Linked DNA regions of Homo sapiens. The protein of the gene in region 2 purifies or fractionates together with the protein of the main gene of each other region. This does not show direct contact. Each region holds a gene or a part of one and is shown on either strand. Other genes may lie near its edges. The genes, in order: GDA, SPMIP4 and GRK6.

Region 1 (8,644 bases), on a different chromosome or scaffold from region 2:
TATGGTAGCAGGTGCCTGCAGTCTCAGCTACTGGGAAGGCTGAGGCAGAAGAATCCCTTGAGCCTGGGAGGCAGAGGTTGCAGTGTGCTGAGATGGTGTCAATGCACTCCAGCCTGGGCAACAGAGTGAGACTCTACCTCAAAATACTAATAATATTAACAATAGACTTCTTTAAAACAAGTAATATCAAATAGCATACTAGAGCATTGTTATCAATGTGTCACTTCAGCATCAATTGTTAAGTGCCTTGTATTATATTCGTATCACTTAAGATTTGACATGTAGTATATATAATAATACGACATTCACTAATTATGCTAGGGAAATGTTACAGTAATACTATGAAAGCTATTAATTTCTACTCCTAGAGGTGGCAGAGAGAAAATATATTAGTTCCATATAGGTAAGACAATATCTGTTTCATACAGTCATACCCACAGTGCTTAGCATGGTGCCTATCATAATATAGATGTCCAATAAATATTTGTTAAGTGAACAAACTGTTAAAGAATATTTATAGGGACTAGCACTATATTCTCATAAAAATGGACAAAATATGAATTGAGCCATCTCTCTATTGTCAGTAAATACAGAGGTGGGATACTCACTGGCATAACTACACTATACAGATAAAGTAGTTTTGGGGGGCCGAGGGTGCTGCCTCTATGGATAGGCAAACCTGGGTTCTCACCTAAGAACTGGAAAATGGAGATCATTATGATTTGCTATCCATTAAGGCCTCCCACTCAGAAGAACACACAGTTTTAAAAGGAACGCATTTATCCCATCTCAAATTTTTGGTGTATCTTTTTTTTTTTTTTCTCTAAAGCATAACAAGCTTGTCAGAGTTTCCATGGTGAGCACAGGGCACCATGGAAACTGATAGATTTAGCTACATGAAAAGAATAAATAAAATAGGCAGGCATTTATTTCACTGTACAATGACAACTTCTCTCCTAGATAAGAGAGGAAAAGTGGCCTCTCATTTAAACTGCTTCCCTGCACTCTCTGTACCTCATGAAAACCTGAGTTATTTTCGATAGCCCATTCTACTGACCTACGCTGATTGGATTCCTGTTTTTCTCAAGGCCCATTATTCCCTTTAGTTTTACTGCAGGCTAGATCTGAGTGTCACCAGCAACTGTTGGAAAACCATGTACAATGTGAAAGTTGTAGATGACAGCCCACAGTGCAGTGGCCAAGTGAGTCATGGCAAAACTGAATGAACAATTCCTGGGAGTTTACTGTGATGAGACAATGTATGAGAACAACTGGACTCAAGATCCAAGTCCATCCTATATTAACTGCACAGGCAAGCCAACCTCCCTGAACCCCAGTTTCCCCATCTGTGGAATGTTTAAAATACATCCTCTTCCTATTTTATAGGGTTGTTGAGAGGCTCAAAATTAGATAATAGAGGAGAAAGCCTTTTCAAACAGTCAGGTTCTATCTAGCAAAAAGGACTGACTGACTAAGCTACAGGTATAATTACATTCATGAGATGAGCAAAATGTCAAAGCTAATCATGCTATGGTCTAGGTTTTGGCCTCAGGCAATTGGAGGTTTAGAACACGATGATCCCACCCCAGTAGTTGGGGAATTTGGGGGCTACTTGGCTCCATCTGAAATAGAGAAAATTGAGATTGTAAGAAATGAAGCTTTAAAATTTTTCTCTATGTCTGAACATTCTCATAAAATGTTGGAAAACTAAATAAATGAAATAAAACTCATCCTTAAGTTCTAGTCCCAATGAATTGTTCACCATTAGCAGACACCCACTATAGCCTCTTAATTTTTATGACTAAAATATAGGCACTAGAGCCATCTCCTGCAATTCAATATTCATATAAATCTATTGAGCACCTCCTAGTGACCAGGGACTGTGTTAAGGGGATGGATACACAGAAAGAAAGAGGACATGGTCCTTCAGAAAAACACATCTTCTTTGGGGTATAGATGAGTAATGGAACAATTACAGCACACCCACAAACTCAGGGGAGGAACACTTAACACTCTAGAGCAGAAATGTAAAGATATCCTGGATAAAGGTGAGGGGGGGTTGGGGGTTGGGGGAGTGGGTGGGACAATGAGGCAGACATGGTGTAAGGTGGTAAAAGGGCACCACAGGCAGAGAGAAGAGTGTGAGCAAAGCGGATTCATAGCATATGGGAGAGTGGAGGTAGCCAAGCCTGAAGAAGCAGCCAGGGAATATTCCATGCCAAGGCGGGGCTCTTTTTTTCTGAAGGAAGTGATATGTGGGGGTGGAGCACTAATGATGCTTGGGCTGTATTTTGAGGGTGAATATGAAAGCTCTGTACTCCCTCTTTCCTCCAAACCTCTGTAGCCAGGAGAATATTTCCCTGGGGATACCAGAATGGGAGTCAAAATTGCAGGAGGACCAGCAATTTAAAGGAGTTGCCACCTCCGAGAGTGGAGTCTCACCCTGTTGCCCACGCTGGAGTGCAGTGGTTCAATCCTGGCTCACTGCAATCTCTGCCTCCCGGGTTCAAGCGATTCTCCTGCTTCAGCCTCCCTAGTAGCTGGGACTACAGGTGTGCGCCACCACACTTGGATAATTTTTTATATTTTTGGTAGAGACGGGGTTTCACCATGTTGACTAGGCTGGTCTCGAACTCCTCACCTCAAGTGATCCGCCCTCCTCAGCCTCCCAAAGTGCTGGGATTACAGTCATGAGCCACCATGCCTGGCTGGGAAGCCAAGACTTCTGGCATGTGGCTGAGCCATGCTGCCTGGCAGTATAGCACCCAGGGCTTCTGGATCCTGGGCCCAGGTACCTACAACTTGACTGGGAATGGAAGTGGAACTATGCATTGCTCAAAAGAGCTAAAATTTACCTGAGGAGCACTAATGCCATGTCACCTGGAGGTTCATGGCCAATCCTTCTGCTTAAGACGATTAATTTCTTTAAAAGCATCATAATGATTATTCATCCTATAAACCACATAGTAACAACATTAAAAAAATCAAAACAAAATTCTCTACCTAGCAATTCCATTATCTCAACAGAACAACACACATTGTTTGATGTACCTTTTCAATTCCAGCAAATATGCTTATAGCTTTTCATGGTTTTCATCGTAGCATAGAAGCTGTTTTTTGTTTGTTTGTTTTGTTTTGTTTTTTTGAGACCGAGTCTTGGTCTGTCACCAGGCTGGAATGCAGTGGCGTGATCTCAGCTCACTGCAACCTCCGCCTCCGGGGTTCAAGCAATTTTCCTGCCTCACCCTCCTGAGTAGCTGGGACTACAGGCACGCATCACCACACCCAGCTAATTTTTGTATTTTTAGTAGAGATGGGGTTTCACCATGTTGGCCAGGATAGTCTCAATCTCGACCTCGTGATCCACCCGCCTCGGCCTCCCAAAGTGTTGGGATTACAGGCGTGAGCCATCGTGCCCAGCCAGAAGCCATTTTTGAAAGCTTAACATTGTGGCTATATATTTCTCCTGTTGTTTTTAATAACTGTATAATGTTCTATCAAGTAGATATATTCTAGTTCATAAAACTAGTCTCTATTTTTTTTTTTTGACATTTAGGTTTTCATTAAAACCTAATCATCAAAAAAATTATTAACCGTATCTGTTTTAGGAAAGTAATACATCTGTTGGAAACATCTGATTGAATCCTATCTCAAAAGCCATTTTCTTCACCTTTCTGTCTGAGGTTTTTGTGTATACAAGGGAATGTTTTCAGTGTGCTGGCTGTCGGTACTGCCAGGAGGGAGTGCAGTTGGCAGAATCAGGAGAAAGTGACAAGGAGCAGGGACAAGTGTAATGACCTCAGCTGCAGAGATTCCTAATTCTGGATCCCTGGTAGGGTGATCAACCATCTGTGTGCATGGTTCTGACGGTTTTCCTGAACGGCCTTTCAGTGCTAAAACCAGGAAAGTGCCTGGTAAACCAGGATTTGTTGGTCACCTTAGACATTGGTTATGGGGGAGCTGAAGGAACTGAGAAGGGAACGAATCATTTCTATAAGCCAGCCCTGTGTCTTAAAAGCAGCAATTCAGAGAAAAACTGCTCACACACTGCAATGAAACCCTCACCCTTTATGTAGTTGTCAAAATAGTTATTTGTCTCAGGTTATGGCTCTGCTCACAGAAAAACCATCCATTCATTTATTCAATAAACATGTATGGAACACCGGCATTGTTCTAGGCATAAGACACATTCCCTGCTCCTGTGGTGCTTCTGTTATTGGTGTGTGTATGTGTGTGTGTGTGTGTGTGTGTGTGTGTGTGTGTGTGTGTGTATTGGTGAGAGGGAAACAGGAGTAAACTAAAAAACACAAAATAAAGAAGAATGGACACAATAAATGCAATGGCAGAAACAAGATGGATTAGTGGAGTAGAAACTGCTGGGAGTCCGGTGCCACTTGGTGGTCAGGAAAGGTGACTCCGAAGAGCCTGACATTTGAGACAAATCAGTGGTGAGAAGAGCTGCCAAGTAAAGCGCCACAAGAGGGATTAGGGGCAGAAGGAACAGCACGTTAGAGGGCCCTGAATGGAAGCCAGCTGGGTTTCATGGAGGAACTTAGTGAAGGACCCTGTGGTCATTGTGTAGGGTGGGAACGCTGACCCTAGTTATGACCCAGTCCAAGCTCCATTTTCATAAGTGGGGATGATAAGCACACTGAGGCCCACGTGTCTTGTCCACAGTCTCTTGATTCCCAATTCAGCACCCATGGTACCATTGCTGCCTATTTGACTTGAGAACTTAATTTTCTCCCTTTGTACAACTGGAAGTAAATAAAAGAGATTCATTCATTTTACACGAGAAAAATTGGTATTGGAATTGTTTGCGGACAAACACAAGAACCAAAAACATTAGCCTCAAGGTGAAGAGAGGAACCTTGGCGTCCACAATGACACCCAGTTTAGGGGTCCCCAGAGATGTTCGGTAAGACATGCTTCCAGAACCTTCCAGGTGAGGACCAATACTAATTCTGCAGTCTACATAAACTAAAAATGAAACTGGTCATAAGGTAGGCAGCCCCAGCTGACCTTTCACCTGTGCCTGAACTAATGCAAGTACAGGACCTGAGTGCTACAGGTTGAAGAAGTAAGTGATCCTAGGAGTTGAAGGGTCAGAGGAGCCAGGCTGACACAACTCATAGAAGGTGGAGGAAGCTGATCTTCTGAGCCTCAGCTGTGGTTGATCTTGATAACTCAAAGAGTTAACACAACCAAAACTAACGCAAGGGTGGAGAGAAAGACCACACCCCACGGGAGCGCGGAGCCAACTCGCGGGAGAAAAATCCTATTGGCATTGAGGAGGTAGGGAGCCAGCCCCTGGGCGCGGCCTGCAGGGTACCGGCAACCGCCCGGGTAAGCGGGGGCAGGACAAGGCCGGAGCCTGTGTCCGCCCGGCAGCCGCCCGCAGCTGCAGAGAGTCCCGCTGCGTCTCCGCCGCGTGCGCCCTCCTCGACCAGCAGACCCGCGCTGCGCTCCGCCGCTGACATGTGTGCCGCTCAGATGCCGCCCCTGGCGCACATCTTCCGAGGGACGTTCGTCCACTCCACCTGGACCTGCCCCATGGAGGTGCTGCGGGATCACCTCCTCGGCGTGAGCGACAGCGGCAAAGTAAGCAGGCGCGGGGTCGAGCGCACTCCGACGGGCGGGAGGATAGGTGCAAGGAACCTGGCGCGGTGCTTCGCGTAGCCCGGGGTTCGCTCGGTGCGCAGTGAGCGCCGCGGCTCCGGAGTTGAACTTGAGTCTTTGGCTCTTGGGCAACGCAGAGAGAACCCTGGCGCTAGGTTCGTGGGCTGGCTGGGGAGTTCCCAGAAGTCGGGAGCAGTGGCGTGCTAACGCCACAACTGGCTCGACAGCAGTCCGGGCTGCGGTAGAGCCGGGAGCAAGGATGTCACCCCCCGCTCCCCCGCCCCCCGTTCCAATCCTAAGATACCGGCAATAATCTTCAATCTTGCTTAAATCATCTTTGTTTCCAACACCTAGCACTGTGCCTGGCACAGGAGGCTCTCCATAAATGTGGTTGAATTTATTGTGAAAGAAATAAGAGGAGGGGGTCATTTGATTGATGTTGTTTAGCGTGTCCAGAACATAGAATAAATAGAACTGATTACATTCACCCTATCATTCAACAGAGATAATATACTAACGATGAAGGTTCCACAACTTGTAATACTAGAAGGGATGGTCCGAAAGAAATAATTCATCCATCTCTTTTCCTTCCTCTCTCTCTCTTATACACACACGCGTACACACACACACACACACGCACGCACACACACACACACACCATAGCCATTTGCATCAAAGCAAGCAGTTCCATTTTAAGGTTCAAAATGTCTTCTTTGAATGTATCTTTTACACTTCCTTTTCCAAAATCAGGATTTCTACAAATGACACAGGTAACTTGATGTCTACTATTTACTGTTCCATACACACATATAGTGACTATATCAGCCATGGCCTGGCAAGTTTGATAAGTGAAGCCATTCCATTTTTTAGAACAAAAAAATGATAAAATAAATATGGAGATGGGATTTTTTGAGCTGTTTTCCAACTACTGGTTTGGTTAGCAAAAGTACACATACTTGTGATTTGTCAAGTTGAAGATACTATTCTTGACTAAGATGCTACCGAGTCGGTGACAGTTTTGAATCGTGACTCTTACATTTGGGGGTAACTAAACACTGTTTTCTCATGGTGCTTTAAAAAATACTCTTTCTATGCACGTTCAGGGAGCCTGCTGTTGTGTTTCCAAGGTGATAAAACTCTCAGAGCTCTCCCAGGGAGATTCCGGTAAACCCTGAGACTGATGAACCCATGCTTGGGGACTTGGTCCTCAAGTTTCAGGGAACTCAGGTTTGGGGCAAGTCCCAGGAAGCAAAGGAACGGAGATTGCTAAACTGGTGTAAGATTAGAGGTGTTATTTTAATCACAAGAAGCTGTTCAACTCTTGGGTTTCTTTTTTAAAAATTAATTTCCCATATCCAGAATTGTAATTGGTAGGGTAACAGGCAACTGGTTTTACCAGTGGAGAGGAATAAGAAAAGGAAGTAATAAAAATACCTTTTCTGGTGCTTGTACAGAAGAAGAATAAAAGAGTTTCCCAAACACACAATTAGTAGTTGAGTCAGGGAGTCTATTCCTCACTAAAAATCATACTGAAGTTATAAATTTAGAAAACATGCCCTTCCCCCACAAGACAAAATGACTTAGGAATTGAATACAAAGGTGAGTTAGTCAGTGGCTGGAATGTATGGTACAGAGCTCCTGAACCAGTGGATTGCTAACTGTTGCTCTCCTCTCCTCCTAGGTGCAAGGCAGTTGATACCTGGCTGTGTTTAAAGAGAGAGCATGCCATACATATTTCAAAACTTGACATCCCCCATTTCAAAATGGAGAGTATCTTACTTTTAGAGTTGCTGGGATAAATATATTATTTATTTAAACATTTCAAGGTTCAAAAAAGAAAATAATACGCCTTTGGAATACAGAAATATGTTGAATTATTATGATCTGTAATTTTTTTTTTGGTTTTTTTTTGTTTGTTTTTTTTTGAGATGGAGTCTCGCTCTGTCACCCAGGCTGGAGTGTAGTGGCTTGATCTTGGCTCACTGCAAGCTCTGCCTCCCGGGTTCATGCCATTCTCCTGCCTCAGCCTCCCGAGTAGCTGGGACTACAGGCGCCACCACGCCCCACTGATTTTTTTGTATTTTAAGTAGAGTTGGGGTTTCAATGTGTTAACAGGATGGTCTTGATCTCCTGACCTCGTGATCCCCCTGCCTCGGCCTCCCAAAGTGCTGGGATTACAGGCGTGAGCCACCGCGCCGGCCAATGATCTGTAAATTTTTACTCCTAAATTTTTAGGAGCTCAAACCTTGCAATGAATCAGAAATATCTAGGGGTGCTTGATAATATGCTGATTTCTGGGCATCATCCTCAGAGACTCTGAATCTATAGACCTGGGGTAGGCCCCAGAAAGTGGCATTCCAACAAGCATCCCAGGAGATTCAGACGCAGGTAGCGGGTGGATTATAGCAGCGGGTGGATTACATTTTGAATAACTGTAACACATAGTTTCTGTGATGGGACAAGCTGTGTGAAGTATCAGGAGCTTATTTCTCCATTGCAAGTTTAGATCTGGGGTAGAATCTCAGCGAGAGGGCACAAAGCTTACTCTGTCCTTCTGGTCTCGCTTTTAAACTTTATTCCTTATTTTGTATAACTTCGTTTAGGCCCAGAGAATGCCAATGACTAACTGCTCTTAATACATTAAATTAAAGCTCATTCAAAAGCAGGTTAATTAAAAGAAATTATCTAGCCAACTTTTTGGTATAAAGCAAAATACAGAGTTATACTTTCTGCTCAAGTAGCATGTAGCTTTTAAGAATATAGACTCTAATGATTGCCATTCTAACTGGTGTGAGCTGATATCTCATTGTGGTTTTGATTTGCATTTCTCTGATGGCCAGTGATGATGAGCATTTTTTCATGTGTCTTTTGGCTACATAAATGTCTTCTTTTGAGAAGTGTCTGTTCATATCCTTTGCCCACTTTTTGATGGGGTTGTTTGTTTTTTTCTTGTAAATTTGTTTGAGTTCATTGTGGATTCTTGATATTAGCCCTTTGTCAGATGAGTAGGTTGTGAAAATTTTCT
Region 2 (7,863 bases):
AAACTCTAGGAGTGCAATCAAAACCTCAAATTTTTATACTGGAGAGTTACACCTTCCAAAGTTTATTATTTGGAATTCCATTCCAGTGATCTACTCTGTGATAAAAAGTGTGTACACTATATCTCCCTCACTTCAGACACTCCCAATTGCATTACATATTAAAGGCTATAGAGAACCCAGTGACCAAGGCATGCAACTGACATTGTTGCTCCGATTTCCCCAGTATTATTTCACCATGTAAACTTTTACTTCCTGTCATAATGTAACTAGTGCTGTACAGAATGCAGTTGGAAAAAAATTCTCTAACTTTAGCCCAGAATAGTTTTAAGGAGGTTACAACCAAATGACATGTTGGTCATAAAATTAAAATAAATATTCACAAAATACTTAAAGAAATTCCTCTTGAACTTCCACGATAGACTATGTTTAAAATCTACCTCTTGGCACATTAAATGAATTGACTTGCATATGGGAGTTAGCCAAACTCTTAGAGAACACACTCCAGAAATGAAGATTTGGGGCTCTGTAATAACTGATACCAAGCCATCCTTTCTTGCTATAATTAGAACTCACCAGTTGCTAATTAAGGCCATTGCTAGATCTTCAGTAAAATAATTTTATCTGCATAAAAGAAACAGTTATGTTTCTCAATCAGAAGGTTAAGGGTAAGCAAACAATTCAATTTGTAATGTGTACATGCAGAGAGTTTTGGGTTTCATTTTTTTCGCTGACTTATTTTCTTTACATGTTTACATAAAGGAACAGAGTCCACATACTTTTAAGACAATATAGTTTTTAGAGGTGTCCATCCCTCAATTAACTAGGTGTTTGGGTTTTGTCTTTTCTACCTAATGCTACTATGTACAAAAATTTACATAAAGGGACAGTGTTCTCATTTTTATTAAGATACTATAATTTGTATAGTCATTCATTAATTATTGATCATTTGAGTTCTTTCCAGCTTTTCAATTTTTTTTGGTGAAACAATGATGTAAACTTTGTTGTACACATTGCTTTTTGTGATTTTGGAAAATTTCCTTGTATAATCTGAAGATGAGAGATTAAAGACTATAAATTTTTCTAGTTCTAATATTTTATTGCCAAATTGTTAAACTTTTCAAGAAGTCATAACATCACCTTTTCTGGGTTCCTCCAACCAGATACTAACTTAAATTCCTGAAAATGTAAACCTCACTAACAAGGTCCTTGTGGTTTAATCTAGAAAACAGAATCCAGCAATACGAAGGAAATTCTGTTATATTTTTTAGCTTCTTGCAAGAGGCTGGGTTTTGAAGGGAAGAATGAGTATCTCAATTATAGAAATAATAGGAATTATGGCCATAGAATTGGTGCTTCATCCCCGAATGCTCATTATCCCTGAGGTCTTTATGGTCTTCTAGAATTGATTTATGGAAACGCTTTTGTGCACCAGTTTTTGAAAAAGAGTTCTTAAGCTCCAGCAGGTTGGTCTGAGGTTTGGTCACTCCAGCTCTAGGAATCCAACCAAGAACAGGTCTTGTTTCTTCATTGTTTTCCATATTCAAGAACAACTCTTCTTCTGGCTTACTTAAAAAATGTTCTAAAGTGAAAGCTTCCGTGTCTTGTTTATTTTGTAAAACACTAGGTTTACTAAGGCTAACAGGGTCTGGACACATATTATACTGATCACGTAGGGGAGATTTAAGATTTTCATAGTGAATCCAGTGGTCTGGTTTACAGTAAGGTGTGGGTTGGGTTTTTAGTGACTGCTGTCTCCAGTATAAATCTTCTGTCTTTTTAGTATCTGTGATTTTTGGAAATGGCTTTATGTCATAAATGCTAGTTAGGTCTTTTGTTGGGTAACAAGATGGGAGTTCATAGGTAGACAGCAAGCTCTGTTCTTCTATGATCTTCTCTTCAATATCCTGGTTTTTATGGGTCACACCGGCTGGTATGTTATCACTAAGTGCCACCATTTCTTTAGAACTGGGTACAAAGGTATGAAAATTACACAAAACTCTAGGAGTACAATCTGGACAGGAACGTGGTCTTTGCTGGACTATAGCCTCCAGAGAACGTCGGTTCTGAATTAATCGGGCAATTCGTCCTTCCAACGGTCTGGGAGGTTTGAAGACAGGGTGGAATTTTTCTTGCTGTAGTTGTGGGATAAAAAGGAGAAAAAAATTGATCAGGGATATTGCCACAAATGGTAGGTCAAAAGTCATACCCATTTTCATTGTCTGAGTACACGAGATGGGCATAGGAGTGTACATTGCAATGCTCTTTGATACTAATTTAAAGACATTGAAATTTGGGTCCAAATACATTTTCCTCCTTTACTGGTTTTAGAGAGTATGAAAGGGGCATGTTTTTTATTTGGCTATACAGAACTCTTTCTGTGTGGGAACTCTGCTTTTAAACTTCAAAGATATAAAGCAATCACTGGAATAAAACTTCTGTCCATCACTAACAGATGGCATTAGCCGCGTGTGCAGTTATTTAATCTCAGCCAAAGTCTCCTTTATTAGGCCTTAGCAAGTGCCCTTAAACCTTGGCTGAGTCAGAATCATCTGCAGAGCTGGCAGGAGATTCCTGACTCCTAAGACCCTCCAAGACTGTGGGTCAGAAGGCCTGTAGTGGGCCCCAGGAAGCTGAATTTTCTTTTTTTTTTTTTTTTTTATTTTTTCTTTTTTCTTTCCTTTCTCTTTGGTTTTCATTCTCTTATGGTTTTGGCAGGTTTTGACAGTATTAGAGTAATGCGAACCTCATGAAACAAGTTGCGGAGTGTATTAATTTGCTAGCGCTGCCATAATGAGGTACCACAAACTGGGTGGCTTCAACAATAGAAATTTATTGTCTCATAGTTCTGGAAGTTCAGCCTCAGTGTATTGGCAGGGTTGGTTTCTTCTGAGGGTTGTGAAGAAAAATCTGATTCCTGCCTCTTCCCAAGATTCTGGGTGGTTTAATGGAAATCTTTAGTGTCCCTTGGCTTGTAGAGGCATGACCCCACTGTCTGCTTTCATGTTCACAAGACATTCTCTCTGCAGCATGTCTACCTCTAAATTTTCTTTTTATAAGAACACCAGTTAGATTGGATTAAATTCACCCTCATGACCTCATTTTAACTTGATTACCTTGGAAATGACCCTATTTCCAAATAAGGTCACATTCTGAGGTACTTGGGATTATGCTACAACTTCAACAAAAGAGATTACCCATAATATGGGGTAATTTAACCTTCCTTACATTCTAAAAATCTTGTGTAAGATTGGTGTTATTTCTCCTTGAAGATTAGAAAAGATTTACCAGTAAAACCACTTGGGTCTAGACTTTCCATTTTAGGAGGGTTTTTGATAAATTCAATTTATTATTATGTATAGGACTATTCAGATTTTCTTTATCTTCTCATGCCAATTTTGGGAGGACCACTTTTTAAGGACACTTGTCAATTTTAAGTTATGATCTTTTTAATGCCTGGAGAATATGTAATGATAATCTTTTAAAAAAATTCATTATAACTGTGATTTATGTGTGTATTCTTTTGTTCTTAATCAATCTAACTAGAAGTTTGTCAATTTTGTTGATCTATTCCAGGGATCAGAAAACTTTTTTCTGTAAAAGGCCAAGTAGTAATAAGCTCATAATTTAGTGTAAGCATTGTGGACCATGTGATCATCATTGTAACAATGCAACTCTGCCATTGTTGAATAAAATCAACCATAAACAATCCATAAACAAATGAATATTGCTGAGTTCTTTTATTTTCTTTTTGTGAAGATAGAGTCTTGTTATGTTGCCCAGGCTGGTCTCTAACTACTAGGCTCAAGCAATCCTCCTGCCTTTGCCTCCCAAAAATGACAGGATTACAGGCCTGAGCCACTGTGCCCAGCAACTGTTGCCATGTTCTAATAAAATTTATTTACAAAACCAAAAATAACCACAATGAGTTAATACTCCACAGTCACCGTATAATCAAAAAGAGAGAAATAAATAACTGTTGGCATTTATGTTGAGTAATAAAAACCCTCATACATTTCTGGTTGGAATGTAAAGAGTTACAGCCACTTTGAAAAATGGTTTTGAAGTTTCCTAAAATCATATAACTACTCTCCCAAAACAAAAACATATGTCCATACACAGATTTGCATGTAAATATATGGAAGCTGAATTTTCAACGAGCATTTCAGGTGATGGTGAGGCTGGAGATTTGCTATGCTTTGAGAAACACTGGTCTGAGGTGTCATGTCTGTGCTTCTTTTTAAGTTGTTTTATAAATATGAACTCAATTATGTCTGGTAACTGCGAAAGTAGTGAGTGTATTTAAAGTGCTATTAATAGATACACGCTGGGTGGTGGGAAGAGGATGCAGCTGACTGGGAGGGGGTATGAGGAGGAAACTTTCTGGAATGATAGTATTCTGTATCTTGATAGGGGTTTGGGTTACAAAGGTGTGTTTGTTAAAACTCGATGAATGTACACTTAAGATTTGTGCAATTGCATTGAACTTTATTTCATCTTAAAAGAAAAAAAAACCGCAAACAAATATTGAACTCTGGTTGATAATATACATGCTGCATGTTTAGGAGTGAAGTATACTAATGTCTGCAATTTACTCTAAAATGCATACAAATAATATATTTTTATTATTTCTGGATGATGGATGGTTAGAGGGATGGAAAGATGGATAGATTATGTGATAAAACAAGCATAGCAAAATGTTAGTGGTAGAATCTAGGTGGTGAGTATATGGGTGTTAATTATACATTTTTTTTTTTACTTTTCTGTATGTTTCAAACATTTTATAATAATATGTTAAAGTAAAAAAACTACCAAAGAATGTATGTATAATGATGATGGAATTGACAGCAGAGATAATACAAATGAGAGTAGTGAGAAAATAATCACTGTAGCTTGGACTTAAAAAAATGGACTTAGGAACATCCTTTTGAAAGCTAATCTGTTCATAGTCAGAGAAATTTCCATATTGAGGTAACAAATTTGTTACAGCCTTTAGCTAATCAAGTTTGAGTAAATACTGTGATGAAAAAACTTCAGCTCTTTGACGTGCTTTGTTAAATTTGTCATAAAAAAGGACAGGACTTATCATATTGTACTTTGACCATATATATTTCTGTATGCAAGAAGCAGTTTTTAGTGCTTTTATTTTACACTACTACAATAAAATATTTCATACACATTTTTATTACCATTAAAACATGTTTTCCCAGTCTGTTCTTTATGGTTTAATCAGAAACCAGCAAGAGTCACTAAAACTTTCTTTTAAACTTCCAATTATCTTAGGTATATTTTATCTCGTTATTCATAAATATTTAAGAGTTGATTTGCTTGCACAATGATTTTGCATATAACATATTTGGCAAACATCCTGTATATAATGGAATATGTATTTTGTACATACCATACAGGGTCGAATCTCTGGAAATCTGGACAGTTGTTGAACACACCTGACAACATATGTTCATATAATATTTTCTATACTTAGAGAATGCTCATTGCAAATTCAACAAAAAAATTATTAAAAACCCTTCAGTGAATGATAAAACACAGCCTATAAACCTGCTCCTGGTGTTATGATTTTATATCACCTTAGGAAATGCTGAAGCAAATGTAAAATCAGTATGTTCAGCTCAGTTTTTATTTTATTTATTAATTTATTTTGAGATGGAGTCTCACTCTGTTGCCCAGGCTGGAGTGCAGTGGCACAACCTTTGCTCACAGCAACCTCTGCTTCCCAGATTCAAGCGATTCTCCCACCTTAGCCTCCTGAGTAGCTAGGACTACAGGCATGTGCCACCATGCCCGGTTAATTTTTGTATTTTTAGTAGAGACAGGGTTTCACCATGTTGGCCAGGCTGGTCTCCAACTCCTGACCTCAGGTGGTCCACCCGCCTCAGTCTCCCAAAGTGCTGGGATTATAGGCAAGAGCCACCACGCCCGGCCCTCAGCTCAGTTTTTTTGTTTTCTTTTCTCCCCCCGCCCAGCATGATCTTGGCTTGCTGCAACCTCCGCCCCATCCCCCTGGCTGAAGCGATTCTCCTGCCTCAGCCTCCAGAGTAGCTGGGATTACAGGCGCCCACCACCACGCCCGGCTAATTTTTGTATTTTTAGTAGAGACGGGTCTCACCATGTTGGCCAGGCTGGTCTCGAACTCCTGACCTCAGGCGATCCACCCGCCTCAGCCTCCCAAAGTGCTAGGATTACAGGCATGAGCCACCGAGCCTGACCCAGCTCAGTTTTTAAAGTGTTCAAACTGAAATAATCTTACAGATGTTTTTCCTTGTGTTTTTCACAATTTATATACCTTTAAAATGTTAATTTTGTTTTCAAAATTTGTAGTCGTCGAGAATAAAATTTAGGCCTCAAATAAAACAACACATATGCAAACTATTAGGTCATTTCATCTCATTTACATAATTAAACCAACAGATTATACTTTTGCTCATTAAAGGGCTTGATTATTTCTTCCAGGCCATTTCGCATAATCAATTTAAAAGTCTCTACTGATATCTGCAGAGAACGTATTGGCTTTTCATTGTAATTCAGCCAGCTCTCAATTATTATGAATATCAGGAGGAAGCCTTTATTTCTTCAAAAGCAATGGTAATGTACAAGATATATAAATATGCAAAGGGCCAGGCGCAGTAGCTCACGCCTGTAATCCCAGCACTTTGGGAGGCCGAGGCGGGCGAATCACGAGGTCAGGAGATCGAGACCATCCTGGTCAACATGGTGAAACCCCGTCTCTACTACAAATACAAAAATTAGCTGGGTGTGGTGGTGCGTGCCTGTAATCCCAGCTATTCTGGAGGCTGAGGCATGAGAATCGCTTGAACCAAGGAGGCGGAGGTTGCAGTGAGCTGAGATCGTGCCACCGTACTCCAGCCTGGCAACAGAGTGAGACTCTGTCTCAAGGAAAAAAAAAAAAAAAAAAAAAAGCAAAGATCTACGGAATTTACTAGGAATCTCATTAAATCACTAGTTAAATTCTTTTGTAAACTGCTTCTTTTGTAAGTTATTTCAGCAACAGTAGCATAGTAGAAAATCTGTTAAAAAAAAAAAACCACTCTGAAGAAGAAAAGAAATCTCTTTTTTTTGAGACGTAGTCTCGCTCTGTCGTCTAGGCTGGAGCGCAGTGGCACGATCTCAGCTCATTGCAACCTCTGCCTCCTGGGTTCGAGCGATTCTTCTGCCTCAGCCTCCTGAGCAGCTGGGAGTAGAGGCGAGTGCCACCACGCCTGGCTAATTTGTGTATTTTTAGTAGAGACAGAGTTTCACCATATTGGCCAGGCTGGTCTCGAACTCCTGACCTCGTGATCTGTCCGCCTCGGCCTCCCAGAGTGCTGGGATTACAGGTGTGAGGCACTGCGCCTGGCCCAAGAAAAGAAATCTTGCTTGTTTTCCCAAACAGCAGACAAAGTATTCAAACCAGTTCAAATCAGCTCAGAATTCACTTCTAAAATAAGTAAAAATTTCCATTTGCTAACTTGGTTGCTAAAACCCAGGACACAAAAAGTGGCAAAGCAAGAAGGAGCCCAGCACTCTCCCCCAAAATAACTGAGAGTTGACTGCAATTACTTACCGGCTCTGGGTCAAATCCTATCTTTCGTGTTAACTCTGCTACCATCTTTTCATGGTAATCATCCAGTTCAAGGGGGTCCATGGGCCCCAGACCTTAATGGAAACATCACCTTATTATTTTGTTAGGGTAAACGAAGAACGACAGTTATATTACCCTTTATAGGAAAACTTACCCATTCCTTTTGTAATATAATTAGAACCAATAAAATGAAAACCAACCCTACCTCCCAGCTACCTATGAAGAGAAATTTACCACCCACCTTAATTCTTATTTAAATACTTTAG
Region 3 (7,579 bases), on a different chromosome or scaffold from region 2:
AGGCCCGCTCACTTTGCTCACAGGTACGGCAGCTCACAGAAGCCTGGCCAGCCAGGGCTGGGGTGGATGCACCTTTCCCTCCCTCCCACCCACTCACCTGCCTGGCCTGCCTGGCCGACTCACCCCTGCCACAGCTCCTCTGCAAGGACCCTGCCGAACGCCTGGGGTGTCGTGGGGGCAGTGCCCGCGAGGTGAAGGAGCACCCCCTCTTTAAGAAGCTGAACTTCAAGCGGCTGGGAGCTGGCATGCTGGAGCCGCCGTTCAAGCCTGACGTGAGTGCAGCCCACTCCTGCTGAGGGCGGGGCCCAGCCAGGGCTGGGGCTCAGGGGCTCTTGTAGTATCAGCCAGGATGCTTCCAGTGCAAGTGGCAGAAAAAACAATCTAGTGGCTTAGCCACAGAAATAAAGATAATTCACAAAAAGGAAAAGCCCCAGGATGGGTCTGGCTTGTGGCATGCCTGGATGGGGCTTGGAGCCTCTGACAATGTCCTAGGAACTCTCTCTCCTTCCCCTCACTGTACCGTTGAGTGTGTAGTCTTCATATTGGGGTAGCTCTCCCCATGGTGCGGCAGCAGTGGGCCCCAGCAGCTCAGCCACCACAGTAGACAGAGAGCTTCTCTTCTCTTTTCTCTTCTCCTCTCCTCTCCTTCCTTCCTTCGTTCTTTTTTCCCTTCTTTTTTCCTTTCTTTCCTTTCTTCCTTTTCTTTTCTTTTTGGAGACAGGGTCTTGCTCTGTCCCCGAGGCTGGAGTGCAGTGGTGAGATCTTGGCTCCCTGCAACCTCTGCCTCCCAGGTTCAAGCGATTCTCCTGCCTCAGCCTCCTGAGTAGCTGGGATTACAGGCGCCCACCACCATGCCCGGCTAATTTTTGTATTTTTAGTAGAGATGAGGTTTCACCATGTTGGCCAGGCTGGTCTTGAAATCCTGACCTCAGGTGATCCTCTTGCCTCGGCCTCCCAAAGTGCTGGGATTACAGGAGTGAGCCATCGCGCCTGCCCTTGCCCAATAATTTCAAAAGAAATCCTCATGGGGGAAAAGAAGTCCCAAAGCTGATGCCCATTGCCTCTCATTGCTCAGAGGCCCCTCACTGGCCACACCCAGATCATACACCCACCCGAACCTGCACCAATGGGGGAGCTCAGTTCCCCAGAGGAAAACTACAATGCAATTGCCAGCAGTGGGAGGGGCTGTTGGGCTGGCCATCCTTCTGTGGGTGGTCACTTTTCCTTATGGAGTCTCACCTGTTAACTGAGCATCTCAGTGGGCCAGGCACCCAGCAGGCAAGAGTATCCTCTAGTTGTCAGAGTCCGGGTGGCAGAAAACCAACCTAAACTCACTTAAGCTCACCGTGGAGTGTATTGGTTCATTTGGCCAGAAAGTCCCAAAGTAGGGCCAGCTCCAGGGTTTCCTGCTGTGTGCCACGATTCTCCAGCTCTTGCCTGGCCTTCAACCTGTTGACTCTTTCCCTCCCCCTGAATTAGGCTTCTCTGTGTGACAGTCATAGGGAAGGTTCTGATTGGCTAAGATGAGGTCATGTGCTTTCCCCTTCCCATGTCTATGAGGACTGGTCCTGTAATTAACGGTTCACCAGGAACACTGGAGAGGCCCGAAGGATGGGCAGGGCAGGCCAGGTTGATAGCTGTCAATGACACACACGTTTATTGATTCAGCAAATAGCTGAGTGCCCATTTATGCCAGACCCTGGAGATAATGAGGCCCACTGGAGCCAGTCCTGCCCTTACATTCTAGTGGGAGACACACCCAAACAAACCCGTAAGCCAGAAGGAATTCCAGGTAATGTTAAGTGTGACAAAGAAAACTAAAGCAAGCGGCTGGGTGCGGTGGCTCACGCTGTAATCCCAGCACTTTGGGAGGCTGAGGCAGGCGGATCACCTGAGGTTGGGAGTTCGAAGACCAGCCTGACCAACATGGAGAAACCCCATCTCTACTAAAAATACAAAATTAGCTGGGCATGGTGGCGCATGCCTGTAATCCCAGCTACTCGGCAGACTGAGGCAGGAGAATCGCTTGAACCCAAGAGGAGGAGGTTGCGGTGAGTTGAGATCGCGCATTGCACTCCAGCCTGGGCAACAAGAGTGAAACTTCATCTCAAAAAAAAAAGAAAACTAAAGCAAGCTACGAAGATGGCAGAGAATGATGGTGGGGGGAGCGCTTTTAGACACCGTGGTCTCTGGGGAGGTGATGCTGGTGCAGAAATGTAAAATATGTGAAGCGGAGAGCCATGCCAAGGTTTGGGGTGTGAGCATTCCAGGCAGAAGAAACAGCCGGGTATTGCAGTCCTGAGGCAGGGGCCAGCCCTGTGAGGTGGAGCAGCCGCGAGGACACCTGTGTGGCTGAGTGAGCCCGTGCAGGCAAAGAGGAGTGCCGGCAGGTTCTCAGCAAGATGGGACCGCTGGGGGACCCTGGGCAGGAATGTGAGGTGTGGGGAGTGGGCCATAGTGGGTGTGAGTGGAAGTGGGGAGGCCAGTGAGGGGGCTACTGCCCTGAGTGACTGCCTCACATGGGCCTCACTGGAACCGCTGGCCAGGCTGGTCTCGAACTCCTGACCTCAAGTAATCTGCTCGCCTTGGCCTCCATACCTCTTGGTCTATACCTAGAAGTAGAATTACCAGGTCATATGGTAACTATGTTTAACCTTTTGGGGAACTGCCAGACTGTTTTCCAAAGCAAAGGTGGGCCCTGTCAGAGGCACTTACTTGAACTAAGAGAGCCTGACTTTCATCAGCTCGCCCCTGAGGCTGGCACTGCCACTCAGTCTGTTCTGTTTCCTGTGTACATCATCTCATTTAACCTTGAAATAACTACACTGCCTCTGGATCTTCCATTCAAAGTCGGAGATAAAATCAGTGCCCTGGAGTTTAACTTTGTGGAAGCAGTAGATGAAAAAGCAAGCTTGATGATATTTTTTTAACAGCTCTATTGAGTTTAATTTATATGATTTATATACCATACAATTCACCCATTTAAAGTGTACAATTCGGCTGGGCGTGGTGGCTCATGCCTGTAATCCCAGCACTTTGGGAGGCCAAGGTGAGTGGATCACCTGAGGTCAGGAGTTCAAGACCAGCCTGGCCAACAAGGTGAAACCCCCGTCTCTACTAAAAATACAAAAATTAGCTGGACGTGGTGGCGCATGCCGGTAATCTCACCTACTTGGGAGGCTGAGGCAGGAGAATCGCTTGAACCTAGGAGGCGGAGGTTGCAGTGAGCTGAGATCACACCATTGCACTCCAGGCTGGGCAACAAGAGCAAAACTCCCATCTCAAAAAAAAAAAAAAAAAGTGCAATTCATTGGCTTTTTAATTATGCAGTCAGCACCACGATAAATTCTTGAGTGTGTTCATTACCTGCCCCACTCTGCAAAAAAAAAAAAAACCCATACCCTTAGCAGCCATTCCCCATGCTTCCCTCCCGCTGCTCCTAGCAATCACCAGTCTACTCTGTGTCTCTCTCTGTTTGCCTACTCTGGACATGTCATAGCTATGGCATCACATAGTATGTGATCCTCTGTGCCTGGCTTCTTTCACTTAGCATAGTATCTTCAAGGTTCATCCATGTTGTAGCATAGATCAGTGCTTCATACCTTTTTAAGGCTGAATAATATTCCATTGCATGGATAGACCACATTTTCCTTACCTGTTCGTCAGTTGGTAGACATTAAGATTGTTCCCACTTTTTGGCTGTTATTGCTGCTGTGAACATTCCTGTACAAGTTTTTGTGTGTGCAGATGCCGCCATTTCTCTTGGTCTATACCTAGGAGTAGAATTACTAGGTCATATGGTAATGATGTTTAAGCTTTTGGGGAACTGCCAGACTGTTTTCCAAAGCAGCTGTACCATTTTACATGACAATGATTTTAATTGACATCTTAATTGAAGGATTTAGAAAACAATGTTAAGATAAAAAAAGAAGGTGGCCGCCTGGAGCTGAGGTGGGCTCCCAGTGTGGGTCTGGGGAGGTGGAGCAGTGGGAGACCGTGCCAGTCCTCTGATTGGCTGGGAGAGAAGACGGCAAGTCCCAGGTCATCGCAGGGCGGGGAGCCAGGGAGTCACCAGCTCCAGGCTCTGCGTGGTGGTGCCCAGCGGAGGGGCCGGCTGAGATTCAGCCTGTACTCCCCGCCCCAACTGCATACCCAGGAAGCTGTGGGCAGGCGAAGGAGGTGCCTGGCATTGGCCTTTACACAGCCTCACAGTCATTGAGCAGTGAGGAATAACGTACGCAGTTCACAGAGGGGAAAACCAGGCTTCGGAGAGAAGGGCCTGCCCCACTTAGGAAGTGCGTGGGGCACCTGGTTTCTCCAAATCAGAGAGCTGCTGGTGTCAGGCAGCACTAGGCCAAGACCCGAGGCAGAATCAGGGCTGAGCTGCCTTCGCGTGTGCGTGTGTGTGTTTCCTATCTGACCGTTGCCTCTGTCCCACCAGCCCCAGGCCATTTACTGCAAGGATGTTCTGGACATTGAACAGTTCTCTACGGTCAAGGGCGTGGAGCTGGAGCCTACCGACCAGGACTTCTACCAGAAGTTTGCCACAGGCAGTGTGCCCATCCCCTGGCAGAACGAGGTGGGGGCCTGCCCTGCTGGTGGGGTGGGCTCCAGGAGGCTGCCCTGGGGACAGCTGTCACAGCCGCCTGCTCCTCAGCAGATGGTGGAGACCGAGTGCTTCCAAGAGCTGAATGTCTTTGGGCTGGATGGCTCAGTTCCCCCAGACCTGGACTGGAAGGGCCAGCCACCTGCACCTCCTAAAAAGGGACTGCTGCAGAGACTCTTCAGTCGCCAAGTAAGCCCCAGCAGCGGCCTACCTGGGCCCCTAACCTGGCTCCAGGGGACGGTGGGTGGGAGGCAGAGCCGGTGCCCGCATGCGCTGGGAGTGGGCGTCCTCCAGTCCTGTTGTGGTGCCCAGGGTCTCTGGCCTCATTCCCGCCTGTCCCCCACCCCTGGCTGGGCTCATGGCCTCTTTTCTCTTTCCAGAGGTGAGCAGTGTGGGCTCCCCGTGGGTTGGCCTTGCTGCCTGGCCTCGGGGAGCCACGGGCAGCCCTTCCATGGCAAAGGCAAGATGTGGGAGAAAGAAGTCTGGTGCCCGCCCCACTCCCCCTGCCCACTGCTTTGATCCCCTGCACCCTGGCCCCTTCGAGCTGCCAGCTTTGCTTCGCTTGTCTCCCCGTGCCCTGTCTCTGCCAGCCCCAGGGGAGAGGGCTGGGCAGAGGCCTTGCCCTGGCAGACCGTGGGATCTACCCAGCCCCCTTACTTCAGTCTGTTGCCGGCAGCCTCTGCAATGACGCCCACCCACGTGTGGCCTGAGCTGCTGCTCCAGGCTCCTTGTGGAGAGGCCCCTCCCCAGAGTGCACCCCTCAGGCAGCTCCTGGCCTGCCCTGGCAGGGTCGGCCCCATGTGACGTCCCTCGTGGTTAATGGCACCTGCTCTGCCTCTCTCCCTCCCTCCGTGTCTTCCCCGTCCCTCCAGGATTGCTGTGGAAACTGCAGCGACAGCGAGGAAGAGCTCCCCACCCGCCTCTAGCCCCCAGCCCGAGGCCCCCACCAGCAGTTGGCGGTAGCAGCTACTCCGAGCGCCGTTTACAGTTTTGCACAGTGATCTTCCCCATTGTCCACTCAAGTCGTGGCCTGGGGAACACAGACGGAGCTGTCCCCAGTGTCCTCCGTCCCTCAGCCCCTGGCCTGGCTGAGTTTGGCAGGGCCTGGGCCATCCCTGGGACAAAGGTGCGTCCCTTCAGCTCTTCTCCGTGGAGCTCGGGGCTTTCTGTATTTATGTATTTGTACGAATGTATATAGCGACCAGAGCATTCTTAATTCCCGCCGCAGACCTGGCGCCCCCGCCTTGGCTCCTGGGGGCAGCCAGCCCTGGCTGGGAGAGCGGGAGCTGGCAGAGGAGCCACTGCCAAACTCAAGGCTCCTCTGGCCCAGCTTGGATGGCTGAGGGTGGTCACACCCCTGAGCCTTCAGCACTGTGCTGGCCACCCCGGCCTCTGAGTAAGACTCGTGCCTCCCCCTGCTGCCCTGGGCTCAGGCTGCTACCCTCTGGGGCCCAAAGCTGTCCCTTCTCAGTGCTTGTCAGCGCTGGGTCTGGGGCCTCTGTATGCCCTAGGCCTGTGCCAAAGTGGCCAGAGATTGGGCTGCCTGTGATACCCATCAGCCCACTGCCCCGGCCGGCCCAGATAGGTCTGCCTCTGCCTTCCAGCTCCCACAGCCTGGTCCCTGATACTGGGCTCTGTCCTGCAGACACCTCTTTCAGAAACGCCCAAGCCCAGCCCCTAGGAGGGGGTGGGGCATCCCTGGTCAACCCTCAAACATTCCGGACTCCCCTCATAACAATAGACACATGTGCCCAGCAATAATCCGCCCCTTCCTGTGTGCGCCTGTGGGGTGCGTGCGCGCGCGTGTGTACCTGTGTGGGTGAAGGGGATAGGGCGAGGCTGTGCCTGTGCCCCAGGTCCCAGCCCTGGCCCTTCCCAGACTGTGATGGCCATCCTGGTCCCAGTGTTAGGGTAGCATGGGATTACAGGGCCCTGTTTTTTCCATATTTAAAGCCAATTTTTATTACTCGTTTTGTCCAACGTAAGCTGCCACATGTCTCTGTGTGAATAGTCCGAGCACAAACCTGGCTAGCCGCCCCTGCCTGCCTCTTTCTTGCTTCCGGTGCTCCAGGGGTCTTCCTGCTCCCCTGGCCCAGCTGGAAGCGGGAAGGGATTGGAGGTGGGCCTGGAGGGAAGCAGGGTGTGCCCTTCCGAGGCCCAGGAGCCCCCAGGGCTGACTCTGAACTAGCCTCTCCAGACAGCCAGGCTTTGGTAGCCTTTGGGCTCACCCAGTGGGTTTCCCAACTTCCTAAATGGGATGGGGCCTAAGGAAAGAAGCCTTGGGTACCCACTGGGATGTGGGTCTGTTTCTGACTGCTGGTAAGGCGGGCCCCGTTGGTGTCCTCCCCTCCAAGGCTAAGGTGGCCTGGCTGCCTAAATGTGGACGTAAGAGTAGGGTGGGAGCTGTGTAAGGAATGTCTGCCCCAGGCCTGCGTTACCTGGACGCCAGCCATGTACGGGCCCCGGGCTGAGGCACGTGCATCATATCCACCCCTCTGTTTTGCCCTTGACACATTATGGGCAAAGACCTAGACAGTGGGTGACGCTGGCAGATAGGCTGTGGCCAGTGTGGGAGAGTTCTCTGAAGACGGTGGTTGAGCCGGCCTCGAAGTGGACATTCACCTGGGAGGAAGGGGGACTGGGAGGCACTCAAGGGGAGCTTCCTGCCTGGGCTCTGGGGCTGAGAGCTTGTTGCCTACCAGTCTGTCCCAGATCTGGCAACCCCATCACTGCTCTATAGACTCCCAGTGTCCCCAGCTCCCTGAGAATGCCCCGTAAGCCCCATCAAGCTTGTTCCTGGCCTCTGGACTGGGCACCCAGTGCTGCAGGAGCCATGTGAGCTTTGTAGCTGACAGTTCCAGGTTCAAGCCCCAGCCTGGCCACTTTTCAAGTTGGCCCTGCACAGGCGCTTCCCTGATATGGAAAGGTAGGTGTAAGACCCATCACCTTTCTGGGCAGCTGTGAGAATCCACC

Evidence for each region.
Region 1: the proteins of SPMIP4 (region 2) and GDA purify together in Homo sapiens (affinity purification with mass spectrometry; 2 studies listed by BioGRID and IntAct, with this or other methods). This does not show direct contact.
Region 3: the proteins of SPMIP4 (region 2) and GRK6 purify together in Homo sapiens (affinity purification with mass spectrometry; 2 studies listed by BioGRID and IntAct, with this or other methods). This does not show direct contact.

What each region holds. Positions count from the first base shown.
Region 1 is NC_000009.12:72,144,082-72,152,725, forward strand, and holds the start of GDA (guanine deaminase), read left to right. Parts: upstream 1-5,358; 5' UTR 5,359-5,478; coding exon 5,479-5,601; intron 5,602-8,644. UniProt on the Homo sapiens protein: Catalyzes the hydrolytic deamination of guanine, producing xanthine and ammonia.
Region 2 is NC_000007.14:25,134,662-25,142,524, forward strand, and holds the end of SPMIP4 (sperm-associated microtubule inner protein 4), read right to left. Parts: intron 7,672-7,863; coding exon 7,580-7,671; intron 2,133-7,579; coding exon 1,311-2,132; 3' UTR 31-1,310; downstream 1-30. UniProt on the Homo sapiens protein: Microtubule inner protein (MIP) part of the dynein-decorated doublet microtubules (DMTs) in flagellum axoneme. May serve to reinforce and thus stabilize the microtubule structure in the sperm flagella.
Region 3 is NC_000005.10:177,436,259-177,443,837, forward strand, and holds the end of GRK6 (G protein-coupled receptor kinase 6), read left to right. Parts: coding exon 1-23; intron 24-134; coding exon 135-272; intron 273-1,630; exon of another isoform or gene 1,631-2,612; intron 2,613-3,655; exon of another isoform or gene 3,656-3,773; intron 3,774-4,441; coding exon 4,442-4,579; intron 4,580-4,660; coding exon 4,661-4,795; intron 4,796-4,986; coding exon of another isoform or gene 4,987-4,992; exon of another isoform or gene 4,993-5,095; intron 5,096-5,476; coding exon of another isoform or gene 5,477-5,478; coding exon 5,479-5,532; coding exon of another isoform or gene 5,533-5,569; 3' UTR 5,570-6,633; downstream 6,634-7,579.